Linked DNA regions of Homo sapiens: regions 1 and 3 are each linked to region 2. The links come from fine-mapping of genetic effects on gene expression. A gene starts in region 2. Each other region holds a variant in brackets. All regions are shown on one strand. Distances are between the middles of the regions.

Region 1 (10,881 bases), 23 kb after region 2:
TTTCTTTCTCTTTTATTTTAAAGAACTTTTATTTCTAATCTCAAAATGCATTTTTATTGTAAAAAAAATGTTAAAGGCCTCTAATCCCAGTACTTTAGGAGGCCAAGACGGGCAGATCATGAGGTCAGGAGATTGAGACCAGCCTGGCCAATATGGTGAAACCCCATCTCTACTAAAAATACAAAAATTAGCTGGGCATGGTGGCGCACACCTGTAGTCCCAGCAACTCAGGAGGCTGAGGAAGGAGAATCGCTTGAACCCGGGAGGTGGAGGTTGCAGTGAGCCGAGATTGCGCCACTACACTCCTGCCTGGTGACAGAGCAAGACTCTGTCTCAAAAAAAAGAAAGAAAGAAAGAAAGGCGTGTGTTTATTATTACATATTATCATGATACATATTGTATGTACATATATTTAGCTTTATTGAGATATATTTTGCATACCTTAAAATTCATCCACTTAAAGTGTATCATTCAGTGACTTTTAGTATATTCCTAGTTATGCAACTCTCACCACAAGCTAATTTTAGAACATTTCATCACTCCTAAAAAATACCCTATACCCCTTTAGCAGTCAGTCCTCATTGTCCATTCCCCTTAACCCCTGGCAACTACTAATTTACTTTTTTTGTCTACAGTTTTGGCTATTCTGGACATTTCACATAAATGGAAACATACAATATGTGGTCTTTGTGACTGGCTTCTTTCATTTAGCATAATGTTTTCAAGTTTCATCCATATTTTAGCATGTATCAATACTTTATCCCTTTTTATGGCTGAATAATATTCTGCTGTATGGATATACTACATTACTTTTATCCACTCATCAGTTGATGGACATTGGGGAGGTTTCTACTTTTTAACTGTTATGAACAATGCTGGAGCCAGGTGCGGTGGCTCACACTTATAATCCCAGCACTTTGGGAGGCCGAGACAGGCAGATCACCTGAGGTCAGGAGTTCGAGACCAGCCTAGACAACATAGGGAAACCCCATCTCTACTAAAAATACAAAAATTAGCGAGGCATGGTGGTGTGCACCTGTAATCCCAGCTACTCGGGAGGCTAAGGCAGGAGAATCACTTGAATCGGGGAGGCAGAGGCTGCAATGACCTGAAATTGCACCACTGCACTCCAGCTTGGGCAGCAGAGCAAGACCTGTCTCAAACAAAACAAAACAAAACAAAACAAACAAACAAACAAAAAACAATGCTGGTATAAACACTTATGTACAAGTTTGTGTGTAGACATATGTTTTCAATTCTTTTGGAGATGGAATTTCTGGGTCATATAGTCACTCTATGCTTAAGTGCCAAACTGTTTTCCAAAGTGGCTGTACCATTTTACACTCCTATCAGCAGTGTATGAGGGTTCAAATTTTTCCATATCCTCCCCAACAGTTGTTTATATTATTTTTAAATAACAATTTTTTAAATTGTATTTTTAAAATTGTAGCTATCTTAGATTGTGTGATAAGGTATCTCATTAGGGTTTTGATTTGCATTTCCCTAATGATTTAAGAAGGTTAAGCATCTTTTCTTATATTTAGTGGCCATTTGTATGTCTTTGGAGAAATGTCTATTCAAAAGTTCTTTATATATTCTGGATACAAGTCCCTTCTCAGATATATGATTTTCAAATATCTTCTCCCATTGCTTGGGTTATCTTTCACTTTCTTGATGGCATCTTTTGAAGCACAAAAATATTTAATTTTAGTGAAGTCCAATTTACCTATTTTTCTTTGGTTGCATATGCTTTTGGTGTTGTATATCTAAATCATTGCTTAACCCAAGGTATATTAGTCTGCTCTGGCTGCCACAACAAAATACTAAATACTGTGTGGCTTAAACAACAGAAATTTATTTTTTCACAGTTCTGGAGGCTAAAAGTCCAAGAACTAAAGTGCCAGCAGAATTGGTTTCTGGTAAGGCCTCTCTTTTGGACTTCTAGATGGCTACCTTCTCACATGACCTTTCCTCTGTGTGTGTGATGAGAGAGATAGCTCTCATGCCCTTTCTTCTTCTTATAAAGATGTCAGTCCTATTAGATAAGGGCACTACCTTCATGACTTCATTTAACTTTAATCACCTCCTTCAAGACCGTATCTCCAAATGTAGTCATATTGGGAATCAAGGCTTCAACATACAAAGTTGGAGGGGAACACAATTAAGTCTATAACACAAGGTAATGAAGATTTACTTCATGGTTTCTTCTAAGAGTTTTATAGTGTTAGCTCTTACATTTAGGTCTTTGATTAATTTTTAGTTAATTTTTGAGTGTGGTGTGAGGTAGGGGTCCAACTTCATTCTTCTCCTTCATTCTTCTGAATGTGAATATTCAGTTGTCCTAGTACCATTTCTTGATAACACTATTATTTCCCCCATTGAATTGTCTTGACACCATTGTTGAAATCAATTGAATATCAAGTTAAGGAGTTCTGGGACTTTAATTTTTTTTTTTTTTTTGTAGAGACAGGATCTTGCTCTGTTGCCCAGGCTGGAGTGCTGTGGCATGATTTTGGCTCACTGCAGCCTGTAACTCCTGGGCTCAGTGATCTTCCCACCTCAGTCTCCTGAGTAGCTAGGACTACAGGTGCATACCACTATGCTCAGCTAATTTTCATTTTTTGTTTTGTTTGTACAGAAGGGGCCACACTATGCTGCCTGGGCTGGTCTTGAACTACTGGCCTCAAGCAATCCTTCTGCCTTGGCCTCCCAAAGTGCTGGAATTATAGGCATGAGCCACTGTACCCTGAGGAGACTTTATAATGTTACTATAGCAATTATTGTGTTTACTTAATGTAATAGAATGTAAGCTTCCTGAATCCAGAAATTGACCATGTATGATGATGGAGGTAGAGCATAATGCCCAACATAAAATTGTACTCAATATGTGCTCAATATTTAAATATATATTATGTTTTCACTGTTAAAATGCAAATGATACCTGGGAAAGGACATAATTCTGTAACATGAAATAAGTTTCAGATTAAAAGATAACAAATTCTAGGAAAGGAGACACAGGATAGATGGGTTTGATGGATGAGAAGAAAATATCTTTAGCATTTGATTTTGCTTGGCTAAAGGAATACCTTGGCCAATTAGCCATGCACGTTCTGGTGTTGGGTCTTTGAGAGGGGCTGTGACACTAGAAAAAATACAAATTAGGATATGACAGGAAGGAGCTGAAGAATAATTTACCTAATTGACAGCCTTATCAAGGGATCATCCATTTTGGGGGAAGGCAAAAATCGGAAAGTTGTCAAAGGAGATTTGCCCTTTTCTTTCTTTCTTTCTTTCTTTCTTTCTTTCTTTCTTTCTTTCTTTCTTTCTTTCTTTCTTTCTTTCTTTCTCTTTCTTTCTTTCTTTCTTTCTTTCTTTCTTTCTTTCTTTCTTTCTCTTTCTTTCTTTCTTTTTCTTTCTGAGTGTCTGTCTGTCTTACTCTGTCACCCAGCTGAAGTGCAGTGGTGCAATCATGGCTCACTGCAGCCTTGACCTACCCAGGTTCAGGTGATCCTGCCATATCAGCCTCCCGAATAGCTGGAACTATAGGCATGCACCACCACATCCAACTAATTTTTGTATTTTTAGTAGAGTTATGTTGCCCAGGCTGGTCTTGAACTTCTGGGCTCAAGCAATCTGCCACCTCAACCTCCCAGAGTGCTAGGATTACAGGTATGAGCCACTGTGCCTGGCCTTGGCTTTTCAATTAAGATGGGATCATGAATACTTGAGAAACAACCCTTGAGTATTTACTTAATTGAAGTGAATATGATGGTTAATTGTATGTGTCAAATGGACCGGGCCAAGTACTTGGTTAAACATTATTTTGTGTGTCTGTGAAGATATGTTTGGATGAGATTAACAATTGAATTGATAGATTGAATAAAACAAATTACCCTCCCAAATGTGGATGGGCCTCATTCAATTTATTGGAGCCCTGAATAGAATAAAAGGGGGGTAAAGGCAAATTCATTCTCTTAGCCTGACTGTTTTTGAGCTAGGACATTAATCTTCTCCTACACTCAGACTGGAATATACACCATGGATTCTCCTAGTTCTTAGACCTTTGGATTCAGACTTGAACTATACCAGCAGCTCTCCTGTGTCTCTAGCTTGCAGACCACAGGCTGTGGGACTTCTCACCTCTGTAATTGTGTGAGCAAATTCCTTATAATAAATCTCTTTCTATACATATGTGTATGTGTGTATATAGCCTATTGGTTCTGTTTCTCTGGTGAGCCCTGACTAATATAGACAATAACAAGTTTAAAAATAAACATAGAGGTAATACAATTAAGAATCACAGCTCTATTGTAAGTGCAAACACTAATACAATTTTAACATACTTTATAGCTTCATTTAAGATTCAGGTATTATAAATCAAGGGAAACAAAATCCACTTGCCAAGTTCTGTTTTTCAAAATCATTTCAGCATTTCTTACCTCACTGTTAATGTGTGGTACTTTAAATTGTCTTCAGAATCAGTTGTAATCTCTTATTGGTTGACTCTTAATGAGTTGAATAAAATTTTTTAGTCTGGGCTTGGTGGCTTATGCCTGTAATCCCAGCACCTTGGGAGGCTAAGGCGGGCAGATTACGAGGTCAGGAGATCAAGACAATCCTGGCTAACACGGTGAAACCCCATCTCTGCTAAAAATACAAAAAAAAAAAAAAAATTAGCCGGGCGTGGTGGCAGGTGCCTGTAGTCCCAGCTACTCGGCAGGCTGAGGCAGGAGAATGGCGTGAACCCATGAGACAGAGCTTGCAGTGAACCGAGATGGTGCCACTGCATTCCAGCCTGGACAACAGAGCGAGACTATGTCTCAAACAAACAAACCAAAAAATTTTTGTGTTAATTTTATATTTCTTTGAAAGTCATGATTTTATCTTCTTTTCTTTCTTTCCTTCTTTCTCTCTTTCTTTTTTCCTTTCCTTTTCCTTCCTTCCTTCCTTCCATCTTTCTTTCTTTCTCTTTCTTTCTTTCTTTTTCTTTCTTTCTTTCCTTCTTTCTCTCTCTTTCTTTCTTTTTTTCTTTTTGATGGAGTTTCGCTCTTGTTGCCCAGGCTGGAGTGCAATGGCATGATCTTGGCTTGCAGCAACTTCTGCCTTCCAGGTTCAAGTGATTCTCCTGCCTCAGCCTCCCAAGTAGCTGGGATTACAGGCATGCACCACCACGCCTGGCTAATTTTATATTTTTTAGTAGAGACGGGGTTTCTCCATGTTGGTCAGGCTGTTCTCGAACTCCTGACCTCAGGTGATCCGCCTGCCTCAGCCTCCCAAAGTGCTGGGATTACAGGCATAAGCCACTGCACCCAGACGATTTTATTTTCTTTCAAAAATTATTCTTGGCCAGGTGTCGTGGCTCATGCCTATAATCTCATCACTCTGGAAGACTGAGATGGGTGGATTGTTTGACACCAGCCTAGGCAACATAGTAAGATCCCATCTCTATAAAAAATAAAAATTAGCCAGGTGTCATGATGTGTGCCTATAATCCTAGCTACTTGGGAGGCTGAGGTAGGAGGATTGCTTGAGCCTGGGAGGTGAGTGAGCCATGATTGCACCACCGTACTCCAGCCTGAGTGAGAGGGCAAGACCCTGTCTCCAATATATATACATTCTTTAACACATGCAACACTAGGAATAGAGTCTCCCTACTTTATGTCATATGATTTTTGTGCACTGACAGCACTCACAGGATGGGAAACAATAATTTTTCTAAACTGCCGAATAAAAATTCATTTTTATCTTTTCACTCTTTTCAGCACCTCCTCTTCCGAAGGGTATCATTAATTATCTCACAGTCACCTGCTTTAGGTACTGGAAATAATTCCTGTCTGTAAACCTTCAAAAGGGAAATTAAAATTTTTAACATAGTAACAGATTTCAGTTTTGTCCATCTTAAAAGTAAGATTATTTTATCCCTTAGTTTTTTTCTCTTCATGTCTCAACTCTCTTGGCTTTGCTCTTAAGATTTTAATTTCCAAAGGCTCTTTTGTTGTTGTTGTTGTTCTCTAAATTTTTTTTTTTTTTTTTTTTTTTTTTTTTTTTGAGACGGAGTCTCGCTCTGTCGCCCAGGCTGGAGTGCAGTGGCGCCATCTCGGCTCACTGCAAGCTCCGCCTCCGGGGTTCACGCCATTCTCCTGCCTCAGCCTCCTGAATAGCTGGGATTACAGGTGCCTGCCACCATGCCCGGCTAATTTTTTGTATTTTTAGTAGAGACAGTGTTTCACCGTGTTAGCCAGGATGATCTCAATCTTCCTGACTTCGTGATCCGCCCGCCTCAGCCTCCCAAAGCGCTGGGATTACAGGCATGAGCCACCGCGCCTGGCCGTTCTCTAAAATTTTTATAGCATTCTGTTCTTGTTTCATGGGTATGGTATCTTCCGTAATCTCAGTTATAATATTAATCATGATTTTTAAAGAGTTCTCTTTGCCCTATTTGTATCTCCTTAAAGTTGTTTTTTTTTTTTTTTTT[G/TTTTG]GTATGTTTTTATGTTTGGGGCTCAGTCTTTCATGTTGGGAGCTTTCCTCAGAGGGCGGCAATCACTGGGTGCTTACGTTTGAGAGCAGGGAACTGAAAGGTGCTTTAGAAGCTCTAGGTATGTTGTATTTACCTGGCACTTCTTCCCTTCCCACCCCTATCCAACCCCTTAACACACTTTCCACTCTCCCCTACTCCTAATCTGGTTGATTTGTCTTTCTCTCAAGATTCAACTCGAGCATTGACTCTTTTTGGAAAGCATTTTTGGTGTCCCACTCTGCTGTAATACTTTAATATACCCCTGTTACCACTCCACATAGATTGTGAACTGCTTGAATGTAGGGACCCAATTCTAGCTCTCCTTTGTGCCCCACTATGTATGGCATAGTCACATACATATTGCCAGTGCTCAGTAATTGTTTGTGGAGAGAATGGATGTATGAATGCTCACCTCCACCATGCACTTTATGTGCATTACCTATTTTTATCCTCACAATAACTCCATGCCATTCTGCTTTTTTCATGGTTTGTCTTCAAATGCGGAAATATGGGAAGAAAAGACAAACAACTGATAAAATGTTGAGTTAAGTGAATGTATTGATATGCAAACGAACAGCCTTTATATTGCCATGTAGGTTTAAAACAGAGATGTAGGCTGGGCGCGGTGGATCATGCCTGTAATCCCAGGACTTTGGGAGGCCGAGGTGGGCAGATCACAAGGTCAGGAGATCGAGACTATCCTGGCTAACTCAGTGAAACCCCGTCTCTACTAAAAATACAAAAATTAGTCGGGCATGGTTGTGGGTGACTGTAGTCCCAGCTACTCAGGAGGCTGAGGCAGGAGAATAGCTTGAACCTGGGAGGTGGAGCTTGCAGTGAGCCAAGATCGTTCCACTGCACTCCAGCCTGGGTGACGGAGTGAGACTCCATCTCAAAAACAAAAAACAAAACAAAACAAAACAAAAAACAGAGATATAAATAAGGGAATGAAATTGATGAGATAGAGAAAAGGCTTAATATGTACCTGGCACTGTGCTAAGTAAGCAATTTGTATACTTTACCTGTTATTTCTCAAAAAATCCATTAATTTATAGATGAGAAGTTAAGGTTCAGAGAGATTGAGTACTTTGTGCAGTTCAAACAATTATGTTTTAACATCAGATCTCTTTGGACCCCAAGCCTATGCTTGTCGGTGGATCAAGACAGGGAGGGTGTTCACTTTGGTGGGAATTTTGGTACCCTAACAGGAGGAACCCCTCTCCAGCTCACCCAAGTCCCTTGTGCCTGCACTTAGTGCCCTTATGTACTTTTTATTTATAATGTTGCTCTGCTTCTGGACCAAGGCTGTCAGAAGAGCCAGACAAGCAGCCTAAGTCACTTGTAGTGGAAACCCCTGATTTGGTTCTCTGTTTCCACCCTGGTGAATATCTGAACTGCTCAAGGCATAATGCCTTATAAATGCCAACTTTGTATTTATCAGCATGCTTCTTAGCTATAGCAATCAATAAGACATACCCTTCTTTTGCTAATGGCTACATTAAGAGGCATCTGTCCCTTTGCATTAAGGAATCACGTTATACTTGTCTGCCAATTGACCGAAATAAAGTATTTCCAGTAGCTGTATCTCTTAAAATGCTGCTGCTTTTCCTTTGGATTTGATACTAAAAATGCAGGTAAGATCAACAGAATGAGACTCCTAGTTCGCTCACCTCACCCGCTACTTACATTGGCACTGACCATGGGTCGAAACTAATAAATAAGCTTTTCTGGCATAAATGTCATGTGCAGCACTTCAGACATCTAGGAAAGTTCTAGAACTCTTTTCTACAAGCCATTTCTCTACTTAGCACTGTCAAAGAACTCATCCAAATATGTGATTGAACCCAGGAGCCCGAGGAAATTGAGCATTTGTGTTATGGATAATAATTTTTTATATTTTTTATCCCCACATCATTGGATGTAGGTCCAACTTAATTTGAGTAGGTCCAAGGCTAGACTACAGTTACGATCTTCATTAGCAAAGCAATATTGTATATTCTCCTCATCGCTGATTAATGGATTGTTTCCTTACATATATTGTAACTTTCTCTTTTTTTTTCAAGCCATTAATCATTTAACCTTACCCTCAGGCATGAGACAGGGTTTTATTTTTGTGCTTCTTAAGAGTATTCTTTAGACAGAATAAGTCATAAAAGCTCAAGTGCATTCATTCTCTTTTCAATTTGTGGATTTAATCCACCATAAAGCATTCCGACTATATAAAGAAATGAACCGTGTTAAAAGCAAGTATTATTAATGTGATACTTCCTCTGGGCACATTTGCCAACCAAAATATTAAACTTCCTTTAAAGAAATTCTTGAGAATTATTAGTTTGTCATTCAATTAAGGGTTTACATGTGTAAAAATATTCCAGCCATGATAATATGCCCTGCAATGTAATGTCAGATGTAGTTTTCCAAAAGGGATATTCAGGGGTCTATAATTTCCCATATTTTGGAGGTGGCCTAATTTTTCTCAATTAATAGAATACTAGAAAAGTGTGCTTTTAGCATTTTAGGCCAGTATTGGATACAATAGTCCATGTCCCTTTATGTTGAAAACATGAATGCCCAAATTGAATAGTTTCTATTTACCACTTTTCTGTTTGAACGTGTGGCCCACATCTGCTAGAATAATAAATGAAATACTAACTAAAATGTTTAAGCCCAAATAAAAATCACTACCCCAATTTGTTTTCTGTAAATGCTCAGAGTATTAATTCTAGCTCCCTCTCCCACCCTGTTCCCTTCCTCTTTCTTTACTTAGAACTAAACATGAAAAGTCATCTGTTCTTTTTTAGTCTAGAAATAGAAACCACCCTCCCACCCCATGCTCAGCCCAGGGAAGGTTACGGTGAGTTTGTGGCTGAGCAATGCAGGGGCTGACCCCATCTATGCTCCTGGAGGGGGATGGACAGGCACTGCCGACACAACGCAACAGCTGTTGCAGAACAGTCTCTTTCCCAGCAGAACACGGAGGGAACTGAGTCTCACTAGCTGCACTGGACATCTACATTTTAGTTTCTCCGAAAGGACAGGTGGTCCTAATACAGCCTGTCTCCAGCCCACCCTTTTCCCTTTTGTTCCTGTGAACATTGGTCTGCCCATCCCCAAGTGGTGCGTTAGTCATTCAAGGCTTTGGGGTGAAATATGATGCAAGAGGAGGAAGGGAAATCTTAGACACAGAACAAAGCCATTTGAGAGCTGTCACATCAGCCTAGGACTTTGATTTTGTGTGTTTTTGTCTTAAACACTGGTTGCTATAGCTACCGTGAGCAACACACATAAAGGAGCCAGGCAGTGGCTTTTCAGAATTGTGTAATACATTTTCTTTTTGAGCTTTTCTTGCACTGAATGTCAAGTCAAGGATACCTACTTTAATTAATGGTTAAATTGGAGTTGAAGATGAATCGTAATTAAGTACCTGACACTGATCATCTACAACCTCAGAGTAAGATTTTCAGTACTTCAGTTTTCTGCCAGATGTAGAAGTGTGCATGATACAGTTAATCAGGAAGAGTCTCGGAAACCCATTTAAAGCTTATTAACATTGATATTTATTCAGTTTTAAATACCCAGTGTCGGATTTATTCTGTTAATTTCAAGAAACAATTGGTAGGAATCACCCTTTGCTCTTCTTAAATGATTAGATAAGTATTTTTTCCATATCATTAGACATTGCAAAGGTTTAAGAGTTCTTGAACCGTGGAATCTTATGTAGAAGTTATAACGACTCTTTATAAAAGCTGAAGATCAACCTGCAACTTTCGATATTTCTCTACTTTATAATCTACTTTCTCTTTAGTGGCCTGCACACTGACTAAATAGCCATTGCAAACTCTTAATTTCCCTTTTGCTGAATTACCCTGCTCTCTGATCAGAGGCCATACTATCTGTGAAATTTTGCTTCAGAAAAGCCTGCACTGCAAAACCAAACAGTACAGAGATGTATAAAAGATCTCCTCAACCTTAACAGAGAAGCAAAAAGCAAAACATCTTCTTTGCTCCTGATGGAAATGATTACCAATTTAAGATTTCCCACAGAGAAGCCTCTCTCCATGATGCATGGAAAAATTTCCAGAACATAATCTAATAATAGCAAAATAAATAGAAATACTAAATAAATATGCCGACAAACCCATGGCTGATATCACTAATGGAAATCCAGAGTGCTGACAGTATGTGGGTTTTTCCTGTGACCCAGAGCATGTAAGAGGTATACACTCAATCTCAGTGATATCATATCGAGGTGTGGAATGTCACTGTGCTTTTCCATATGGAAAAAGTGAGGTACAGAAAAGGGATACGGCTTGTCCATGGTTATCTCGCACACAGGAGAGTTTATTACGGAGGTAAGCACCCTAGTG
Region 2 (10,881 bases):
CCATGGAAAGTATTAGAAAGGGCTTGGCATGAGGTAGGCACCTCACATACAATATCGGTATCAAATTAGCTGTAAGTGTTGTGTGGTCAAGCTAAGTGCTTTAAGGAGGAAGGGCAGGGAAGGCTTCGTGGAAGCTGTGGCACCTGAGCTAGATATGAAAGCACAAGATAATCCAGACACTCAGAGGGAAGCACATTCCAGACGTGGACAGCCATTACTGCAGAAAGTCACAGACAGAGTAAAAACCAGGAACGCTTAAACATCAATGAGGAAAACAAGCTCACCAAAGCTGAGGGTGTATTTGGTAACCCCAGATTAATTGGGAGTGATGGGGAAGGCTCTGCACACTTGTTGCTGTGCTTCTAGGACTTAACATTCAGTTCATTTTTAGACACATGTTCTATGTATGCAAACTTGTGGACTATGAATGCAAACTCTCCCTGAAATGCTCTGTTCTCCCCCTGCTCCTAGAACAGTGGAAAGGATACTAAAAAATTAAAAGGTAACCTTTTATTTCTGAAAAAAAAAATCTGCTGGATGAAATATAGGTCACTAAAATCAACTTGAATCTCATGTTCGTCTGTCCCTGTTTCAGTGGGGCTACAAACAAGGTGACAGCTCAGAGAAAGGGGGTGAACTTCAGATCCACACTTCAACGCTGGTCTCTATCAGCAGCCTCAGCCACTCTAAATAATATAATCTACATAAAAGACAGTACACTTGCTAAGTGAATGCATCTTCAAGAGGGGTATCATCCACCCTAGCCTGATCTGTCAACCAGACATTACCTCCAAGCCACATACAGAAATAGAGAAAATGCTCTCAGTACCAGTTTCTTAAATAGTACCTGTGCAATCAATTTCCTCTAAACTTTGAGGGTTTTGTTGTTGTTGTTGTTGTTGTTGTTTTGAGACGGAGTCTCGCTCTGTAGTCCAGGCTGGAGTTCAGTGGCGCAATCTCCGTTCACTGCAAGCTCCGCCTCCCTGGTTCAGGACATTCTCCTGCCTCAGCCTCCTGAGTAACTGGGACTACAGGCACCCGCCACCACACCCGGCTAATTTTTTGTATTTTTAGTAGAGACGGGGTTTCCCCGTGTTAGCCAGGATGGTCTCGATGTCCTGACCTCATGATCCTCCCGACTTGGCCTCCCAAAGTGCTGGGATTACAGGCTTGAGCCACCGCGCCCGGCCTAAACTTTGAGGTCTTGAAACCACTACAACAGATGCTGTGCGTACTTAAGATTGGTATTCACTTAGAATATTACCTCTATTACCAAGTTAGAAATTGTAATACCAAAATAAGTCACCATATTCCTCATCCAAAGAGGAAAAAATCACAACAGAATATAGAACTTCTATTTTGACTGGTGTCCCCTCTAGAGAGAAAACAAGTTTGCTAACCCAAGTTGGACACCTTGCTTTGTTTCCGGCAATATAAGGATAGACTTAACACTGGAAATACCAGAGCACGGCTTGAAGCCAGGGAGGGCCCCACAGCAGTTACAAGCTCTGTGATTATTTCCTGAACCAAACACCTAGGGCACTCAAGGATACCAAGCTTTGTTGGAAAAGCATGTTTCCTCTGGTCCAACAGCTGCAACTTTAAAGTGTTTTCACACAAGACCTCAAGTTTCTCTTTATGCCATCTCCCAAATATTTACAAAATGAAACACTTTCAATCAGAACTTTTGCTTGTAAACACCTTATTTGTTTTAAGGACCATAGTGCCAACACTAAAAGCAGCCTTTTAAACAAAGTAGCTCAAAACCACACACACACACACACACACACACACACACACACACACACACACCCCTTAACAAGCAGAACATGTCCACAAAACAAGAAAGCCAGGATTCAAATTCCTTAGCACCTATTCATGGAGCTCCTGTAAGCACCACCCAAGGATGTGACCCACCACACCCTCTTCATTATCACACCTCCTCACTAATTTACTAATTTATGCTCCTGAAAACCCACAGAATCAGACTACTGGATGGTAACATGTTACAAATATTGGGCAAATGTTCTTTCACATTTCTTTCACATCAACCAGCCTGAAACAACTGATCCTGTTTACGGAACGGCTCTGCCTCAGGTGAGAGGACTATTGTCTCCCAGCTCTTCTGGGAGACACTGGTGGCCTGGCAAAGGCTTCTGGGTATCTTTCTCTTGGTGTCTCTCCCTATTCACGTGTCACACACCTCCTGGGAAGATTATCTGGGCCAAGGATAGTGCAACTGAGAGAAATCTAGAAATGCCTGGTTCAGGGGTAATAAGAAATTGTAACTACAAAGAAACAGTCGATGTGAGTGAATGTATTCTAAAAGCAAATAATTAGGAAATATGTCTATTTCAAATACATAGAAGGCCTTTTATGCCAGACAAGTTTTGGTTTATGATGAAATGAAACTGCTTGATAGAAAAGCTAAGGGGAATATTACCACGGATGACAGAACTATCAGTGGAAATAATAGACCTTGGATCTCCAATCATAGTTCTGCTACTTAATATTCGTTTAACATATATTTATTAAAGACCTACAAATGAACAAACTGCTCTAAATGCTGGGGGGACAGAAAAGGACAAAACAAAGACACTGCCCTCAAGGAGCTTATAATCTAGTAGGGTAGACAAGCAGAAGAATGAAGGAAATTTTCATTTAATGGTAAGTTCCAGGAAAAAAGTGACAACTTCTGATCCTGTTTCCTCATGGGGATGTAGCTACCTACTTAAAATAAGATCGTAAGTGTCAACCACCAAGCACACAGCAATCCCAAGCATTTACCTGACTATGGATACACATGCACAGACACTCTCATATACACACTTTCCCCCATAATTGCAACATCTGTGATAATGCACATTGGTATAAAATGCAAGCAGAGGGGAAACAAAATATTTATATGTCAATTACACTTAATGCAATTACAAATAACTGCATTCATTAGGAATCTATAAAAAGGCAAAACCTAAACAATTAGTTATAATACTAAAGTATAATTAGAAGGGTCCAGATACTGGAATAATAGTAGTGGTAGTATAAACAGTATTATAAATAGTCACATAGCTGCCTTGTCCATATAACCTGACGGCACAGTATCAGAAGCCAAGTTTAAACCCTTAACTTCAGATTACTTTGGGGTCGGGGACGAAAAAGGACAATGACCAAGTCTATCTTGGAATCATAGGCCATTGCGCCTAGAATTAACGTTAGGAAACCCTCTCTACCCTTTCCTCACATTACCAAAGAGAAGACTGAGGTTCCCAGAGGTAAAGGGTTAATCCCAACGTGGAGTAGCCAGTGACTGACAGAGCCAGAGTAGGACCCAAGGCTCCTGGTTATGGCCCTGCATGCTTCACCCTCAAGGACCTGCGCCCTCTAGCCTGGCTTTAGATTTTATGAGAACCACAAGGGACTGCAGTGTCTTCCAGCCGTTATTAATTGTCCCTAATCACTTCCAATCAGCTGCACCTAGAGCAAATTGAGGGCCTTTGCTGGTGACCAGAGAGCTCTCTTTATGCACAACAGGGGAGGGCGCCTTTCATGACAAAGCTGCCTCCAACACCATAAACTACCTTATTGGGGAAATGATGCGGCTAGCCCGAAAGGGGGAAGAGATTTTTCAAATTATAATTTTCAGAGTTTGCCTCAGGAAAAAGGCGCCAAACAATTAGTTTCAGGGAGAGAGGTGGCGTGATGAGGTGTGGCACGGGGAAGGGAAAGGGGTTTAGAACTGTGTCCAAGCTATTTAGGAGAGAAAGGGGAGAGTCCCGGGGCTGTGAAAGGGGCGAGGAGGAGAGAGCAGCTGGGCCAGGGCGAGCGTTTGACCACACCCACTAGCCACTCCCTCCCAGCTGCCCGCAGAGCCACATCGAATCGAAACAGCAGTGGCAGCGGCTAAGATTCCGAAGGCAGGAGTCGCCATGGCAACGGGATTCATCTTGCAGGCAACTCCGCTTCGATTCACTGGGTCCTGCTCGAATCTCAAGAAACTACCAGCAAAACGGTCACGGTGGCATTTGCTCTTGATGCTCTCCAGAAAGTGGAGATGAAGGAGAGGGGAATGGAGTTCAGGCATCACTAAATATGTTATGGGGCGAGAGGTAGCTCCGCAAAGCCAGGCCGTGAACAACTTGAGACCTTAGCAGGGTTTGATGAATGAGTAAACGAACAAATGAAGGTACTAGGAAAGGCAAAGAACATCCAGAGGACTGAGAGCTCTGGGCCTCCTGCACGTCTCCACTCAGAGGGCAAGCCGATCACAAGCAGTTGGCTTTCAGAACCAGCTGGGTAAACCCGATTATCCAGCCCTCCTGCCCCACAGCGAGCCTAATCATTAGATTATCCGACACCTCCACCCCCGCGCTACCACCTCCTGGCCCAGGGCTTCAGGGCAGGCGCTTCGCCCCAGCCCAGGTGCTCTACACCAAGGGACCGTGGAGACTGAGATGCGCCCTCCCGAGAGGGACGGGCGGCAAAAGCCCTCTGCGGTGCCTCACAACCGGGTCCGCAGGCGGCGCAGCCTCCCCGGCCGCCAACACCCTGCTCTCCCTCCGCAACGCCCGATTTCCCTTCTCTCTGTTTTGAAACATTTAGGTCCAACTTAGTCTGAATTACAGGCGCTCCGTCCCTTTCGAATGGGGCTGGAAGTGAGGGTGCCAGGGGCACTGGGGGCTCTGCTCGGACGCGAACGGGTACACGAGTCCCTCCTTCCCTGTCGCCACCGCCGTGTCCACCAAGCCTGCCTCGGGGTTCTCCCTCTCGGAGCCGCCGGGCCGGGAGCTCGCGGACGCCGCTGCAGTACCCGCGGCCCCAGCCCCGGGGAGCCTTCAGCAAGGCGGCGAGTGTTACCCCGCCAGCTCCTCGGCCAGCCGGGCGCCTTAGAAAGAAAGGGAGGGACCCCAGTCCTTGGGGGCGTCTTCCTCCCTGCTGCCTCGGTTTGCGTTGCGCTGCAGCCATTTTCCCACCCCCAGCTAGGCAGCCGAGAGCTGTCTCGGTCCCGTTCCCACCCAGACCCAACCTGAAGGACGGGTTTAATATTTACCTACTGGCCCGGGAGCTCCGGGGAGGCAGCAGGAGGGCGCGCCGCGAACCCAGCGCCCAGCCCACGGAAGCACGCCCACCCCCGCACCACTGAGCAGTGCCACTTAATGAATGAGTGCGGCGGGCAAGGAGGAGCGTCCCCCTTACCTGAGCAGCCCCTGCATGCTGGAAAGGCGGCTCTGCACTCTGGGTACAATGGGATCCGGTTAAACAGTTTCCTTCACAGCCGCTCGTAGGTTACTAACTCGCAGGTGACATCACCCTCTCCTCGCCTGATAGGATACAAAGTGGCTCCCACTGCGCATGGACGCTCCGGTCGGGCGCGCAGACTCCTGGGAGTAGTGGTCCCAATCTATTAGCGGAGCCGGGACAGCTTTGCTGTCGGGACTCGCGGAACTACATCTCCCGACACACTCCTCCGCCCTTCTGCCCCGCCTCTTATTCCCGCCCCCTTCAGGACCCGCCCCCTCCCAGCCTTACAGCCTTGCAGTGTTAGCGGTGGTCGTTCCGAAGCCGAGCTGCGGACCGCACGGGAGAGTGGGAGGGCTGCCCTGCGGTCGTGTGTGTTGACTTGACCTCTACTTTGCCCGGCGCGGGCTCTGAAGGATCGGAGAGGTCCGGGGCTCGCGTGGTCCGGCCAGGCTCGCTCTAACTGGTCTTTCTTGGTCCCTGCTGGGAAGGGACGATTAAGACTTTTCTGCCTTCCCCAGGCGTAGCAGCTAATTCAGAGGGCTTACTGTTTTCTGGGTTAAATACGGTCCTCGAATTCTCCCCGCTCAACACTTCCAGAGGATGGGGCGACGCCGGTCCCAAGGCGGAGGAATCTCCTTGTACCCCCTCAATTCACCTTTCTCTTTTCTGCTTCCCGTTTAACGGAGACAAGGTGACCAGGCAGAACGCGGGGAACCACTTAGTCGGCTGAGCTGACAGAATAACGGAGGTTGTCACTACCAGAAGTGCGGTGTGATAGACTAGACAGTCGCCGCAACCCTCCGTCAGGGCGCCTGCTGCTGCTGCAAAGATAATACTATCGTGCAGCCATGCTTTTGTTCATCCCTGCAGCAGACTTCCCGCGCTGGTGGCTCTCCACTCCCAGGAAGAAAACGTCCTTGTCTAAAGTTTTAATAATTGTGTATCTATGTATACACATGTTTTTAAATCCACAACACTCTCACCTCATTTTCCATACCTTTTCAAATATTTTTATAAAGACATTAAACCAAACAACATCGTGCCGTTCAAGAATTGCCCTGCTCTTAACACACCTAAATATTTATTTAAAGGTAAGCAAAAGGTGTGTAGCAGAATTCTGACCCTTTAGGCAGGTTGTATTGTTAATACATAATTTTTTCCGTGGCATTTTTCATTATTCAGTGAATACCAAGTGTCTTTTAATATGAAAAGAATCAATGCATTTAGTTACTCGAGTTGTAAATGTAAATTTTAATGGCATTTGATGTGTCTCAATTCCATATAATGATCAGCTCACACACCCGTTCCACTAGCAAAATCTCTAGAAGACTGTGCATCTTGTGAAAAAAAGGTTCACAATTAAGATTTCAGACAACTCCCTACTGAAGTGTTGGTGGAACTCTTATCATTTATTTTCTCCTTTCATTCTGCAACACTAAGTTGGGTTCAAGTGAAAAAATATTTATGAAATTAGTTGAGGATCTCAGGGGAGAGGAAATGCTTTGTTTTGCTCAGAGAGATGTTTAGCGATGAATTCTGATGTTCTTTTAACAAGCCTGTTCTTTATAGACAAGACCCACTTTTCTCCCCCGAAAGAAGATAGCTTTGAATGTTGCTCTTCTGTCCTCAGCTACTTCTTCCATTTCAAATATTATCTAAAATGAACTCTGACAATATAAATTTTCCCCTGGCCATCAGATCAAGGATATAATCACTGATATTCTAACTAATGGGTAGACTTAATGTAACGCAGTTCATGGTGGAAAAATATTCAGAGAGAAACTTGACCTGGGATGATTCTAAAGGCTCTTCTAATTTTATAACTGTGTAAAGCTTTTAGACTGAAACATAATCAGTGAGCCTGAAATTTATTGAGTCAATAAATTGAATGTGGAGCCTTTCTGTTAAGACAGGGCTTATCCTTGTAGATAAAAGTATGTTACTGAGGCACACTCTGAGGAGTAATTTTAATGGAGAAATCACCTTACAACAAGTTCTCTTGGCTCTTCAGTAATGAAGGAGAAGATGCAGTCTGTCTGAAAACAAAAATTCCATTCTCTTTAACAATATTATAGGGATGTGCCATGTGACATAGTCATCTCCATATAAAGGACAGCATACACAATAGACTGTAAGCACATAAATGTGGAGAAATGCACATGTGAACTGCTCTTCCTATCTAATAGCTATAAATATAGATAATAGATGTAGAAAGAGGGCATTGTGTTTGGAAAAATTATCTGCAAGTGGTGATGGATTTGAACTGATCCCTGCACAGTTTCATTGGTAACCAAGGGAAACAAAGATGGCTCTTTAACATGAGAAATACAGTCTGTAGAACTAGCAGCAGAGGAGGCTTAACCACTTCTTTGGAGACAGAAGGAAACTCACACACACACTCTCTCTCACTCACTTTCATACACAATCATTGTGTATGTTTGCATTTAATTTTTTCTAGGTGGCCAAGTAGTCTCATAAATCATCAAAAACACCCACTCTGTCTAGCTAATTGATATTCTCAGTCAAAATGGGTTTCTTTACTTTCTATCTTTTCATTTTACATAACTGCTGCTGTTCTGAAGACCTTATGAAAAGCCCTGCCTCATCCCATAATCGTGGCCTATTAATTAGGAACCTGTGAGACCACTAAGAACAGATTTGACAGTCTATACAGGTAGGGGATGAGGAGAAGGCACCACGAAGCATTTTGATGATCTTTTAAAATCACCTCTCTCAGTGCTGGTTATAAGGTTTTACTCTAGATACTGGATTTTAGATAAAGGAGGAAATGAGTTATCAACAGAGAGAAAGAAATGAAAGTGTGTAGCCTTGCGTGTACTTTCATGCAATAGCTTGGTGTTTTGCAACAATCAAGGTTGTATGCTAAGCCCAGGTTTGGGATTGTGCCATTCCATTATTTGTGATCCATGTTACTTTGCATATTTGTGTTATTTATTCTCTCTGAGCCTCAGTTTCCTTATTTATAAAATAGGGTTAATAATAATATATATTTCATGAGGTTTTTGAGGATTAAATTAAATGAAGCATGTAAAAATATTTTTCAAACTGAAAAGCACTATACAAATGTTAGTTCTTGATATCATTTGCAATTTTTCCCAAAAGATTATCTCAGAAATGTCAGGCCTAATTATGGAACAAGGTAATAAAAACCCATTTAAATTAAAAATTCTTATTCTTAACAGAGACTATTAGAAAGAATATAGCATGCACATATTATCTCACTCTAATTGGTAAGTAGGCAAAATGTACTTTGAAGACTAAAATGAGAAATTCAGGGTTGAACAGTGCCAGTCCTTGACTTGTTCTCAGATCTATATGTTCTTCCTCAGGATCCCCTGCTGTCCTCAGTAACATAGGGAGCTTTTCCCAAGCTTCCCAGCATGGAGAGGCACTGCTGGGGGATTGTAGGCAGGAGGAAGAGAGAAGCTAGGGAATTTCTTCACTTCCTCAGAGGTGCATTGGGTGATGTTTCTGGCAGTGGCAGCAGCATTTTCCTTGTTGGACTGGTCTGTCATGGTTCCAGCTTCTTCCAGGTCACCCTGGCCTTGTAACACCACCTTCTCCCTTTGTCCCTCTTGCCTAGCGGTAGAGATAGCTTCCTGCTGTTGCTAATCTCTGCGTTGGGTGTTTGGCTTCACAGATCTTCTATCACAGTATGGCCAATTCTCTGGACCACATTATCTCTGTTTTAAATACTACTTAGAATCGTTTCTGTTTTTTTGGTGGAACACTTTAACTGACATACTCACACTTTAGTTAAAGTTCTTTTAGGGGCAGACAACAAGAACTTTCTATGGCCAGTTTATGCAAAACAAAGAATGTAATGGGATTTATTCAAAGGATTAGACAACCAAGGCTCAAGACAAACAGGAACTGGACAAACTAGGAACCTAAGCAGTGGTAGTTTTCAGACCTCTCCAGAGCACTGGTCTACTAGCACTAAGACTCCGAGCTCTTTGTTCCAAATTTCAAATTCCTGAGAGAAGCTTATTGTCCTATGTCAGGCAACAGTCCCTGACTTAATTATCTTAAAGTACAATCCCCAGACCAGCAACATCAGTATCACCTGAGAACTTGTTAGATATGCAGATACTTGGGCCACACCTACACACCTACTGGAAAAGAAGCTTTAGGGATGGGTCCCACCACATGTGTCTTCACAAGTCCTCCAGCTGAGTCAGACACACTTGAATGTTTTTGAACCATGGATCTACAGCAAGCGTAACAAGATTGTGTGGCTCAAATATGATCACTCAGGACCTATCCCCGTGTGTCTGGGAGTCTTCTCAAAAAGGAGAAAGTGTGAATCTGGAAGCCACCCCAAGAGGTGTCAGTTAAAGCTGGTAAATCTATCAGGATCTTAATGGTAAAACTTGGTTCTTCCTGAGGGAGAGGACTTTGTAGCATTCTGAGCCAACTATTCAGTTTAGTCACTAAAAAGGCACTTGGAGGAGATTCATTTCACTGTGTTTAATTGAGAGCTCAGAAAAACTGAAAAAGCGGCATCGGAACAGAACAAGGGAGATGGAGTCATACAGAAACGTGAGAATGGCAACAATACTAAGGTTAGGCACAGTAAGTGGAGGGGTGAAAATACCTCCAGCCACCCAAAACTCTCTCCAGACCAGTCTTATTTGAACAGCTCCTCGGAGTTCAGAAAGAGAAACTCTCCTTTGACATATTTTAGCCGGTCTTCCTGTATAAGCTTCTTCGTAACTGGCTTACTCTTAGTCCATCTGTGAGACCTGTGCTGTTCAATTCTGTAGTCACTGGCCTCATGTGGCTATTTAAATTTCAATTAATTAAAATTGATGAAATTTTAAAACTCAATTACTCAGTCACAGTAGCCACATTTCAAGTGCTCAAGAGCTGTGTGAGGCCAGTGGCTACCATACAGGACATCACAGATACAGAGTATTCCCATTACTTCTTCAGAAAGTTCTGTTGGACAGCACTGCTACACATTTGTTCACTAATGACTGTTTAGATTCTTTCATGCTGAAATCCACCTTCTTTTCTTCTTCTTCCCCAAGTCAAATTCTGAAGAGAGAGAAAATGAAGAGACAAAGAGAAAGGATATATAATTGTTCTAGTTCACCAACTGAAGCTAGAACATATAATAAATCACTGGCCATCACGAAAAAGACAGCCCAACTAATGCTTAAATTCATTTGTCAGCAGGAAAATATAAATTAAGACTATAATGGGATACCACTACATACCCATCACATTGGTTAAAATTAAAAGGACCAACTATACTAAGCATTGCCAAAGATAAGAAACAAATCTTACACTGCTAGTGAAACTGTAAACTGGTAAAACTGCTTTGGAAAAATCTTTATTAGTATTTGCTAAGCATGAGCATACACATCCTTTATGGCTGAGCAATTTCACTGCTAGCAATATACCTAACAGAGTTGTGTATATGTGTTCACCAAAAGTTACCTATTCAAATGTTCATAGTTATGCTATTCATATATTCATACATGTATTCATATAGCCTAGGGTTGCCATACAATATTTGGGATATACTTACACTAAAAATATTTATTGTTTGTCTGAAATTCAAATTTAAGGAGACATTAGGTATTTTTATTTGCTAAATCTGGCAACTCCATGATA
Region 3 (10,881 bases), 210 kb before region 2:
AGTTGACAGAAGTAGGCTTCAGAAGGTCAGTAATAACAAACTTCTCTGAGCTAAAGGAGGATGTTTGAACCCATTGCAAGGAAGCTAAAAACCTTGAAAAAAAGATTAGATGAATGGCTAACTAGAATAAACAGTGTAGAGAAGACCTTAAATGACCTGATGGAGCTGAAAACCATGGCATGAGAACTACATGATGCATGCACAAGCTTCAGTAGCCGATTCAATGAAGTGGAAGAAAGGGTATCAGTGATGGAAGATCAAATTAATGAAATAAAGTGAGAAGAGAAGTTTAGAAAAAAAAAAAGAGTAAAAGGAAATGAACAAAGCCTCCAGGGAATATGGGACTATGTGAAAAGACCAAATCTACGCTTAATTGGTGTACCTGAAAGTGACGGGGAGAATGGAACCAAGTTGGAAAACACTCTGCAGGATATTATCCAGGAGAACCTCCCCAACCTAGCAAGGCAGGCCAACATTCAAATTCAGGAAATACAGCGAACACCACAAAGATACTCTTCGAGAAGAGCAACCCCAAGACACATAATTGTCAGATTTGCCAAGGTTGAAATGAAGGAAAAAATGTTAAGGGCAGCCAGAGAGAAAGGTCGGGTTACCCACAAAGGGAAGCCCATCAGACTAACAGCGGATCTCTCAGCAGAAACTCTATAAGCCAGAAAAGAGTGGGGGCCAATATTCAACATTGTTAAAGAAAATAATTTTCAACCCAGAATTTCATATCCAGCCAAACTAAGTTTCATAAGTGAAGGAGAAATAAAATCCTTTACAGACAAGCAAATGCTGAGAGATTTTTGTCACCACCAGGCCTGCCTTACAAGAGCTCCTGAAGGAAGCACTAAATATGGAAAGGAACAACCAGTACCAGCCACTGCAAAAACATGCCAAATTGTAAAGACCATCAATGCTAGAAAGAAACTGCATTAACTAACGAGCAAAATAACCAGCTAGCATCATAATGATAGGATCAAATTCACACATAACAATATTAATCTTAAATGTGAATGGGATAAATGCCCTGATTAAAAGACACAGACTGGCAAATTGGATAAAGAGTCAAGACCCATCAGTGTGCTGTATTCAGGAGACCCATCTCATATGCAGAGACACACATAGGCTCAAAATAAAGGGATGGAGGAAGATCTACCAAGCAAATAAAAGCAAAAAAAAAGCAGGGGTTGCAATCCTAGTCTCTGATAAAACAGACTTTAAACCAACAAAGATCAAAAGAGACAAAGAAGGCCATTACATAATGGTAAAGGGATCAACTCAACAAGAAGAGCTAACTATCCTAAATATATATGCACCCAATACAGGAACATCCAGATTCATAAAGCAAGTCCTTAGAGACCCACAAAGAGCTTAGACTCCCACACAATAATGGGAGGCTTTAACACCCCACTGTCAATATTAGACAAATGAACAAGACAGAAGGTTTACAAGGATATCCAGGACTTGAACTCAGCTCTGCATCAAGCGGACCTAATAGACATCTACAGCCAAATCAACAAAATATACATTCTCCTCAGCACCACATTGCACTTATTCCAAAATTGACCACATCACATAGTTGGAAGTAAAGCACTCCTCAGCAAATGTAAAAGAACAGAAATTACAACACACTGTCTCTCAGATCACAGTGCAATCAAATTAGAACTCAGGATTAAGAAACTCACTCAGAACTGCACAACTACATGGAAACTGAACAACCTGCTCCTGAATGACTACTGGGTAAATAACAAAATGAAGGCAGAAATAAAGATGTTCTTTGAAACCAATGAGAACAAAGACAACGTACCAGAAACTCTGGGAAACATTTAAAGCAGTGTGTAGCGAGAAATTTATAGCACTAAATGCCCACAAGAGAAAGCAGGAAAGATGCAAAATTGACACCCTAACATCACAATTAAAAGAACTAGAGAAGCAAGAGCAAACAAATTCAAAAGCTAGCAGAAGGCAAGAAATAACTAAGATCAGAGCAGAACTGAAGGAGAGAGAGAGACACAAAAAACCCTTCAAAAAATCAATGAATCCAGGAGCTGGTTTTTTGTAAAAATTGATAGACTGGTAGCAAGACTAATAAAGAAGAAAAGAGAGAAGAATCACACAGATGCAATAAAAAATGATAAAGGGGATATCACCACCAATCCCACAGAAATACAAACTACCATCAGAGAATACTATAAACACCTCTACACAAATAAACTAGAAAATCTAGAAGAAAAGGATAAATTCCTTGACACATACACTCTCCCAAGACTAAACCAGGAAGAAGTTGAATCTCTGAATAGACCAATAACAGGCTCTGAAATTGAGGCAATAATTAATAGCCTACCAACCAAAAAAAGTCCAGGACCAGATGGATTCCCAGCCGAATTCTACCAGAGGTTCAAAGAGGAGCTGGTACCATTCCTTCTGAAACTATTCCAATCAACAGAAAAAGAGGGAATCTTCCCTAACTCATTTTATGAGGCCAGCATCATCCTGCTATGAAAGGCTGGCAGAGACACAACAAGAAAAGATAATTTTAGACCAATATCCCTGATGGACATCAATGTGAAAATCCTCAATAAAATACTGGCAAACCGAATCCAGCAGCATATCAAAAAGCTTATCCACCACGATCAAATTGGCTTCATCACTGGGATGCAAGGCTGGTTCAACATATGCAAATCAGTAAACGTAATCCATCACATAAACAGAACCAACAATAAAAACCACATGATTATTTCAATAGATGCAGAAAAGGCCTTTGACAAAATTCAACAGCGCTTCATGCTAAAAACTCTCAATAAACTAGGTATTGATGGGACGTATCTCAAAATAATAAGAGCTATTTATGACAAATCCACAGCCAATATCATACTGAATGGGCAAAATCTGGAAGCATTCCCTTTGAAAACTGGCACAAGACAGGGATGCCCTCTCTCACCACTCCTATTCAACATAGTGTTGGAAGTTCTGGCCAGGGCAATCAGGCAGGAGAAAGAAATAAAGAGTATTCAGTTAGGAAAAGAGGAAGTCAAATTGTCCCTGTTTGCAGATGACATGATTGTATATCTAGAAAACCCCATCATCTCAGCCCAAAATCTCCTTAAGGTGATAAGCAACTTCAGCAAAGTCTCAGGATACAAAATCAATGTGCAAAAATCACAAGCATTCCTCTACACCAATAACAGACAGAGAGCCAAATCATGAGTGAACTCCCATTCACAATTGCTTCAAAGAGAATAAACTACTTAGGAATCCAACTTACAAGGGATGTGAAGGACCTCTTCAAGGAGAACTACAAACCACTGCTCAATGAAATAAAAGAGGATACAAACAAATGGAAGAACATTCCATGCTCATGGATAGAAAGAATCAATATTGTGAAAATGGCCATACTGCCCAAGGTAATTTATAGATTCAATGCCATCCCATCAAGCTACCAATGACTTTCTTCACGGAATTGGAAAAAACTAGTTTAAAGTTCATATGGAACCAAAAAAAAATCCCGCATTGCCAAGTCAATCCTAAGCCAAAAGAACAAAGCTGGAGGCATCACGCTACCTGACTTCAAACTATACTACAAGGCTGTAGTAACCAAAATAGCGTGGTACTGGTACCAAAACAGAGATATAGACCAATGGAACAGAACAGAGGCGTCAGAAATAACACCACACAACTACAACCATCTGATCTTTGACAAACCTTACAAAAACAAACAATGGGGAAAGGACTCCCTATTTAATAAATGGTGTTGGGAAAACTGGCTAGCCATATGCAGAAAACTGAAACTGGAGCCCTTCCTTACACCTTATACAAAAATTAACTCAAGATGGATTAAAGACTTAAACGTAAAACCTAAAACCATAAAAACTCTAGAAGTAACCATCATCACTGGTCTCTACTAAAAATACAAAAATTAGCTTGGCGTGGTGGCAGGCGCCTGTAGTCCCAGCTACTCGGGAGGCTGAGGCAGGAGAATGGCGTGAACCCAGGAGGCGCAGGTTGCGGTGAGCCGAGATTGTGCCACTGCACTCCAGCCTGGGTGACAGAGCGAGACTCTGTCTCAAAAAAAAAAAAAAAAAAAATCTTACTGACGTAACACAGCATGATGATCATGTGCAGTTATATATCTAAAGGAAAAAGACATCAACAGAAGACATTGATGGAGCATCTAGAGTGGTGAGTAAATGCTAAGCTTTATTAGAATGTATCCATCACTGTCCAAGGATCAAAGAACTTGAAATATTACAGTCCCATCAGCAAGGCTATTAGTAGAGTCGGCAAGGGTTTCTTCTGCAAATTAATTTAACTGTGGGAGAGTCCTTTAGATTATTTATATTTGTTTTCTTTCATTTTATTTTATCATTTTCTAAATTTTTCAGTTAAACTTTAGTTCATTTTTAGTCATTTCTCTTTTTAAGAAATGAAGGCATTGACAAACATACCTTTGTCTTAGTACGGTTTTGGCTGTGTTCTATAGGTAGTGGCTATAATTTTATATGTAGCAATCTTATACTTATTATTTTATAAACCGGAATTGCCAGATTTAGCAATTCTGGCAGTTCTCCAGTTAAATTAGAATTTCAGAAAAACAACAGATAAATGTCTGGTGTAAGTATGTCCCAAAAGTTGCATGAGACATACTTAGACTAAAAAATTACTCAATATTTGTCTGAAATTTGAATTTAACTGGGTTCCTATATTTTATCTGGCAGCCTTATAAAAAACAGATCTTCGATGTTGTTTTGGTTAATTTTTGACTCAATATTTTTGGAGAATTTTTTTCCAATTGATTGTGATATTTTTTGTTTAAACTTTTCTTATTAAATTATATATTTTTGGTGTGTATATGTGGCTCAACTTTAGGTATTACCATAGGTGGCTACTCTCCACTAGGCAATGTCTGGAGACATTTTTGGTTGTCATGACTTGAGAGTGGGAGAGTATTGATTGCACTAGCATCTAATTGGTAGAGGCCAGTGATGCTGCTAAACATCTTACAATGTACACTGTAATATGAAACCCCCACAACAAAGAACTATTTGACATAAAATATAATAGCTGTTGTTGAGAAACCCTGCCATAAACATTTGAAAATAGGGGTTTATCTTTTCAAATATATCTTTGTTTAAATTAGATCTATTAAATCCATCTCATCAATTGTTTTATTCATATCTTCTCTATTTTTTTCATCTTTGGCCTATCAAAGAAAGAGAATGACATACTGAAGTCATTCATTCAATTTAATAAACATATATTGAGATACCCCAGTATGTCAGACCTTATTCTAACTGGGAATACTCAGTAAATGAAACAGACAAACATTTCTGAATTCATGGAGCTTATATTCTAGTGTGTGGGATAGGATCAGGAGATGTAATAAACAAATTTTATGCAAAATATATGATGATAAGTGTTACACAGCAAAACAGAGCAGAAAATAGGGATGGGTTCTGGGATGGGGACATGAATTGTAATTATAAATTGGGTCATGGGGAAGTTATTACTGAGGTCACAGTAGAGCAAAGACCTGGAGGAGATGACAGAGAAAGTGATGTGATATTTAAGAGAAGTATGTTTCAGGCAAAGGAAACAGAAATGCCAAGCCTCTGATGTGGGTTGGTGCTTGGTATGTTCTAGGAAGAAGAGGAAGCCAGTGCGGCTGAAGAAAAGGGAGGAAGAGGGGAAGTGGTGGGGACAAGGTCAGAGGGCTGATGGTGCTGC[A/G]CTGGTGTTCAGATCATTTAGGGTGGAGGAGGCCATTGTGAGAACTGTGGCATTTGCTTCTGTGTGAGATAAGGAGCCACTGGAGAGTTCAGAGTAATGTGGTTTTGTATACATTTTGAAAGCCTCACTTTGGCTGTTGTGTTGAGAATAGACCATTGACAGGAGACGGGAGGGCAAGGCTGAAGCAGAGAGGCCGGTAAGGAGGCCACTGCAATAACCCAAAAAAGAGATGATGATACTTTAATGAGGGAAGTAACAGTGGAGATTGTGAGGACAGATCAAATTCTGGATTGTAGGTAGAGCCACAAGAATTTGCTATGGGAATGTGTCTGGGCTGTGTGAAGACAGACGGAGTTAGTGATGACCTCAAGGTTTTAGACCAAAGGAAGTAGAAAGATGGAGTTGCTATCATTTAAAATCTAGCAGACTAGAGTAGGAGCAAGTTTAAGACAGATCAGTTCGATTTTGAATGTGTTGGGTTTGAGATATCCACTAGACTTTCTACTTCAGAAATTGAGTAGGAAGTTGGACATATAAATCCAGAGGTCTGGACTGGATACGTAAATATCTGAGTTGTGAGTATACATATGAGATTTAAAACCTCCTATGTATAATTTTTTACTCTATAATATAAAAACTTCAAATAAAAATATTTGAAACTCAATTTTTCTGATTTCAAAATGAAAATGAAGCCAGGTGTGGTGGCTCATGCCTGTAATCCCAGAACTTTGGGAGGCTGAGGCAGGTGGATCGCTTGAGCTCGGGAGTTCAAGATCAGCCAGGGTAACATGGCAAAACTCTATCTCTACAAAAAATGCAAAAAGTAGCTGGTCATGGTGACATACACCTGTGGTCCCAGCTACAAAGGATGCTGAGGCAGGAAGACGGCTTAAGCCTAAACGGTTGAGGCTGCAGTGAACCATGATCCTGCCACTGCACTCCAGCCTTGATGACAGAGCAACACCCTGTCGAAAAAAAAAAAAAAAAAATTAAAAAAATGATAACATATCTCCCAACTATGCCCTATAAAAAATTGGGAAATTGTCTTGCATTTACTTCAAGATTTATTCCTTGAGAGTTTTTTATTCTGTGAAAGTACCTATATTTATCCATTTCAGAATTCTTAAATTTTATTAATGTTTTGGTTGTCCAGAATATACAGAGTATATGTTTAAGAAACTTAGGAGGAAAGGGGCCAGGCATGGTGGCTCACGCCTGTAATCCCAGTACTTTGGGAGGCTGAGGTGGGTGGATCACCTGAGGTCAGGAGTTCAAGACCAGCCTGGCCAACATGGTGAAACCCTGTCTCTACTAAAAATACAAAAATTAGCCGGGCGTGGTGGTATGCGCCTGTAATCCCAGCTACTCAGGAGGCTGAGGCAGGAGAATCACTTGAACCTGGGAGGCGGAGGTTGCAGTGAGCTGAGATTGTGCCACTGAACTTCAGCCTGGGCAACAGAGTTAGACTCAGTCTCAAAGAGAAAAAAAAAAAAAAAAAAAGAAAAAGAAACTTAGGAGGAAAGGGCATATGCAGGATTCTAGGATCTCTAAGGGGATCCCCAATAAGTAACACCTCTTTTTCTCTCTTTCTCTTCTGGGTTTTGAACAAATTGAAGAAAGACAGATGGGAGATGTTATGGACCTAATTTTTTCCTCCCAAAATTCATGTATTGAAGCCCTAAGACCCAATATGACTATATTTGAAGGGAGGGTCTTTTGGGAGATAATTAAGGTTAAATGAAGTCAAAAGGGTGGAGCCTAATCCAACAGGATGGGCGTCCTAATAAGAAGAGGAAGAGACACTGGAGTGCACTCTCTGTCTCTCTGCACGCAAAGAGAAAAGGCCAGGTGAAGGCAGCAAGAAGGTGGCAGCCTGCAAGTGAGGAAGACAGTCCTCACTAGAAACCACCCTGATACCTTGACCTTAAACTGCTAACCTCCAGAACTGTGAGGAAGTAAATTTCTGTTGTTTAAGCTGCCTAGTGTGTGGTATTTTTTTTTTAAATATTATTATACTTTAAGTTTTAGGGTACATGTGCATAACGTGCAGGTTTGTTACATATGTATACATGTGCCATGTTGGTGTGCTGCACCCATTAACTCATCATTTAGCATTAGATATATCTCCTAATGCTATCCCTCCCCCCTCCCCCCACCCCACAACAGTCCCCAGTGTGTGATGTTCCCCTTCCTGTGTCCAAGTGTTCTCATTGTTCAATTCCTACCTATGAGTGAGAACATGCGGTGTTTGGTTTTTTTGTCCTTGTGATAGTTTGCTGAGAATGATGGTTTCCAGTTTCATCCATGTCCCTACAAAGGACATGAACTCATCATTTTTTATGGCTGCGTAGTATTCCGTGCTGTATATGTGCCACATTTTCTTAATCCAGTCTATCATTGTTGGACATTTGGGTTGGTTCCAAGACTTTGCTATTGTGAATAGTGCCACAATAAACATACGTGTGCATGTGTCTTTATAGCAGCATGATTTATAATCCTTTGGGTATATACCCAGTAATGGGATGGCTGGGTCAAATGGTATTTCTAGTTCTAGATCCCTGAGGAATCGCCACACTGACTTCCACAATGGTTGAACTAGTTTACAGTTCCACCAACAGTGTAAAAGTGTTCCTATTTCTCCACATCCTCTCCAGCACCTGTTGTTTCCTGACTTTTTAATGATCACCATTCTAACTAGTGTGAGATGCATTTGATTTGCATTTCTCTGATGGCCAGTGATGGTGAGCGTTTTTCATGTGTCTGTTGGCTACATAAATGTCTTCTTTTGAGAAGTGTCTGTTCATATCCTTTGCCCACTTTTTGATGGGGTTGTTTGTTTTTTTCTTGTAAATTTGTTTGAATTCATTGTAGATTCTGGATATTAGCTCTCGTGTGTGGTATTTTGTTATGGCAGACAGCACGCTAACACAGAAGATTTTTTTAAAATTGTACTTTTATTTGATAGAAGCCTGGTTGGAGGATGTAGCTTAAAATGAGAACAACTAAGCCTGCTAACTGTGCCCTAGAAAAAAGCAGCCCCCCCACTGCAAGGGGTCATGGGCTCACAGCAGGCCTCTCCATGCGGCAGAGCCCTTCTGAGCATCTTGTTCTCAAGAGAAAAAGGTCAGAATGAGATTAGCGTAACCTGTTGTTATTCTGAAATTTACCAATCCCTAGGGTAGACTGAGTAAATGGGTAGGGAGAGGCCAGAAGAAAACTCAGTCCTCATGGGAACTGGGAGAAGGGAAAGAATTCTCCCTCTAAAAACGTGTGTGCTTTCTGAGCTCTTGTGTGTTTGTGTAACAGAGGACAAAGTCAAAAGGGTTTGGCACTTCCTGGTGGGCTCCAACTTCTTTTCTTCTTCCAAGGGGAAGGACACTGCGGGGAGGGCTGGCAGGGTGTTTAAAATCCCTTTAGGGCATAACAATTTAGAGAACTTTTTTATAAAGGGTTAGGTACTGAGGAGTATAATACTCGTTCAAATGGTTGTTTATTAGGGCATAAATACTAAGCCATAAGGGCCCCTTAGAGTACACTTGTTTCCATCAGTCATCATTCATATTTCTGTTGTCAGTTAAGTCTCATCCTTCTTCCCCTTCTCTTCTCTCCCCTCCTCACATCACTCATTCTTTCCCTCGGTCCCTCTCTCTCTCTCTCCCACTCCCCATCCTTATCCTTTGGAGTCAATCTCCTATAAATGTCTTGTTGTAATAAAAAAAAATCAAGAGGTATTTTGGGGACCTTACTTTGCCACCCCCAAATCTTCTCAATTCCTATAAGCCACCCCAAGTATTACACGATTTAAGTACAATTAGTATGCTTGCTCTTCGTTTATTCAGGTATCCATCCATTCATTCCACACACATGGGCTGAGGGCCCACATGTACTGGGTACTTTTTCCAAATACTGAATATTCCAATAAACAAAATAGGTTAAAAAAACTGCCTTTGTGAATCTTATACTCTAGTATGGGATGAGGGGACAGATAATACACAAAGTATACAAATTAGATGTGTGTGTTAGAAAGCAAGTCCTATGGCAAAATAGAGCTGCATACGTGAGATTGGGATTGTAGGGACAGGGGAATTTTAAGTAGGGTGGACAGAGCAGGGTAGGCCTTACTGAGGAGTCTTTTGAATGAAGACCTGATGGAAGCAAGAAAGAGAGTCCCACGGAAAATGAGGGGAAAAGCATTCTAGTCCGAGGGAGATGCAGTGCAAAGGCTCTGAGGTACACACCTACAAAAGAAAGCAAGGAAGGCTGGGCTCAGTGTCTCACACCTGTAATTCCAGCACTTTGGGAGGCCAAGGTGGGCGGATCACTTGAGGTCAGGAGTTTAAGACCAGCCTGGCCAACATGGTGAAACCCTGTCTCTACTAAAATTACAAAATTTAGCTGGGCGTGTTGGGAGGCACCAGTAATCCCAGCTATTCAGTCTCAAAAAAAAAAAAAAAAAAAAAAAAAAAAGAAAAAGCAAGCAAGAAGCCCACGTGGCTGGCATCAATGAGCAGAAATGACTCAGGGATGACTTGAGAGAGGCATGGAGCAGGCGGCTAGCTCACGTAGGGTCTTGTTCATTGCAAAGCCTTTGGCTTTTACTCTAAAGTAAATGGGGACTATTGATTGATGAAATGGGAACCTTTGATTGCTATATCAACACATCATAAAGATAAATCCTCTAAGCCCAGTAACTTTCTCTCTCTCTCTTTCTCTCTCTCTCTCTCTCTCTCCCCCCACCCCTTTCCTTCTTGCAACCTGATTGCCACCTCTAAGCCTTATTAAATAGATGTGATTAAGCCATCTCTGCTTGGGTTTGAGTCAGAGTCCATGAGATGCTAGAATGGTCATAACCATGTATGCTGGGAGTTTTTGGTATAATAAACATAATCCAATCTGGTTACTAAATTTGTTTTAAAGTTTACATTTGATACTAAAAAGTTTCCTCAAAATATCTAGGTCTTGGTTTCTTTTTACTAATTTTACCTGTAACAGAGATATTTCATTTTATTTACAAACTTAGATCTTTGACTCACTAATAGGAGGAATAATGGCCTTCTAAAGATAACCATGCCCTAATCCCTGGGACCTGTGAATATGTTATTTTATATGGCAAAAGGGGCTTTGCAGATGTGGTTAAGGTTATGACCTTGA

Which allele goes with the higher level. Alleles are on the strand shown, and positions count from the first base shown. SD is a standard deviation of normalised expression in the study named.
With allele G in place of TTTTG in region 1, the expression in non-classical monocytes of the gene that starts at base 5,295 in region 2 is lower (large effect, 1.8 SD a copy in Schmiedel 2018).
In carriers of allele A in region 3, the expression in fibroblasts of the gene that starts at base 5,295 in region 2 tends to be higher than with G alone (small effect, 0.19 SD a copy in GTEx).

The links. PIP is the estimated chance that this variant, and not a neighbour inherited with it, causes the effect.
Region 1: its variant is the best candidate, but not a certain one, in a credible set for the expression of DAAM1 in non-classical monocytes (Schmiedel 2018, PIP 0.59).
Region 3: its variant is the best candidate, but not a certain one, in a credible set for the expression of DAAM1 in fibroblasts (GTEx, PIP 0.51).

What each region holds. Positions count from the first base shown.
Region 1 is chr14:59,160,520-59,171,400 of GRCh38, reverse strand. All of the region lies in intron 1 of LOC107984642 (a long non-coding RNA gene), which reads right to left. Among named protein-coding and RNA genes, the nearest start is that of DAAM1, 23 kb to the left of the region's middle. RefSeq lists an enhancer at 532-701. The variant G/TTTTG (reference allele first, on the strand shown) is at 6,476.
Region 2 is chr14:59,183,081-59,193,961 of GRCh38, reverse strand. DAAM1 (dishevelled associated activator of morphogenesis 1) reads right to left here and starts at 5,295. Exons shown (of 25, transcript NM_001270520.2): 1 at 5,194-5,295. It overlaps LOC107984642 (a long non-coding RNA gene), which reads right to left. Exons shown (of 2, transcript XR_001750928.1): 2 at 9,715-10,299. RefSeq lists enhancers at 3,663-3,712, 4,143-4,302, 4,013-4,772, 5,553-5,792 and silencers at 4,663-4,882, 4,943-5,082.
Region 3 is chr14:59,393,842-59,404,722 of GRCh38, reverse strand. No RefSeq gene overlaps it. Among named protein-coding and RNA genes, the nearest start is that of GPR135, 66 kb to the left of the region's middle. RefSeq lists an enhancer at 8,602-9,111. The variant A/G (reference allele first, on the strand shown) is at 5,731.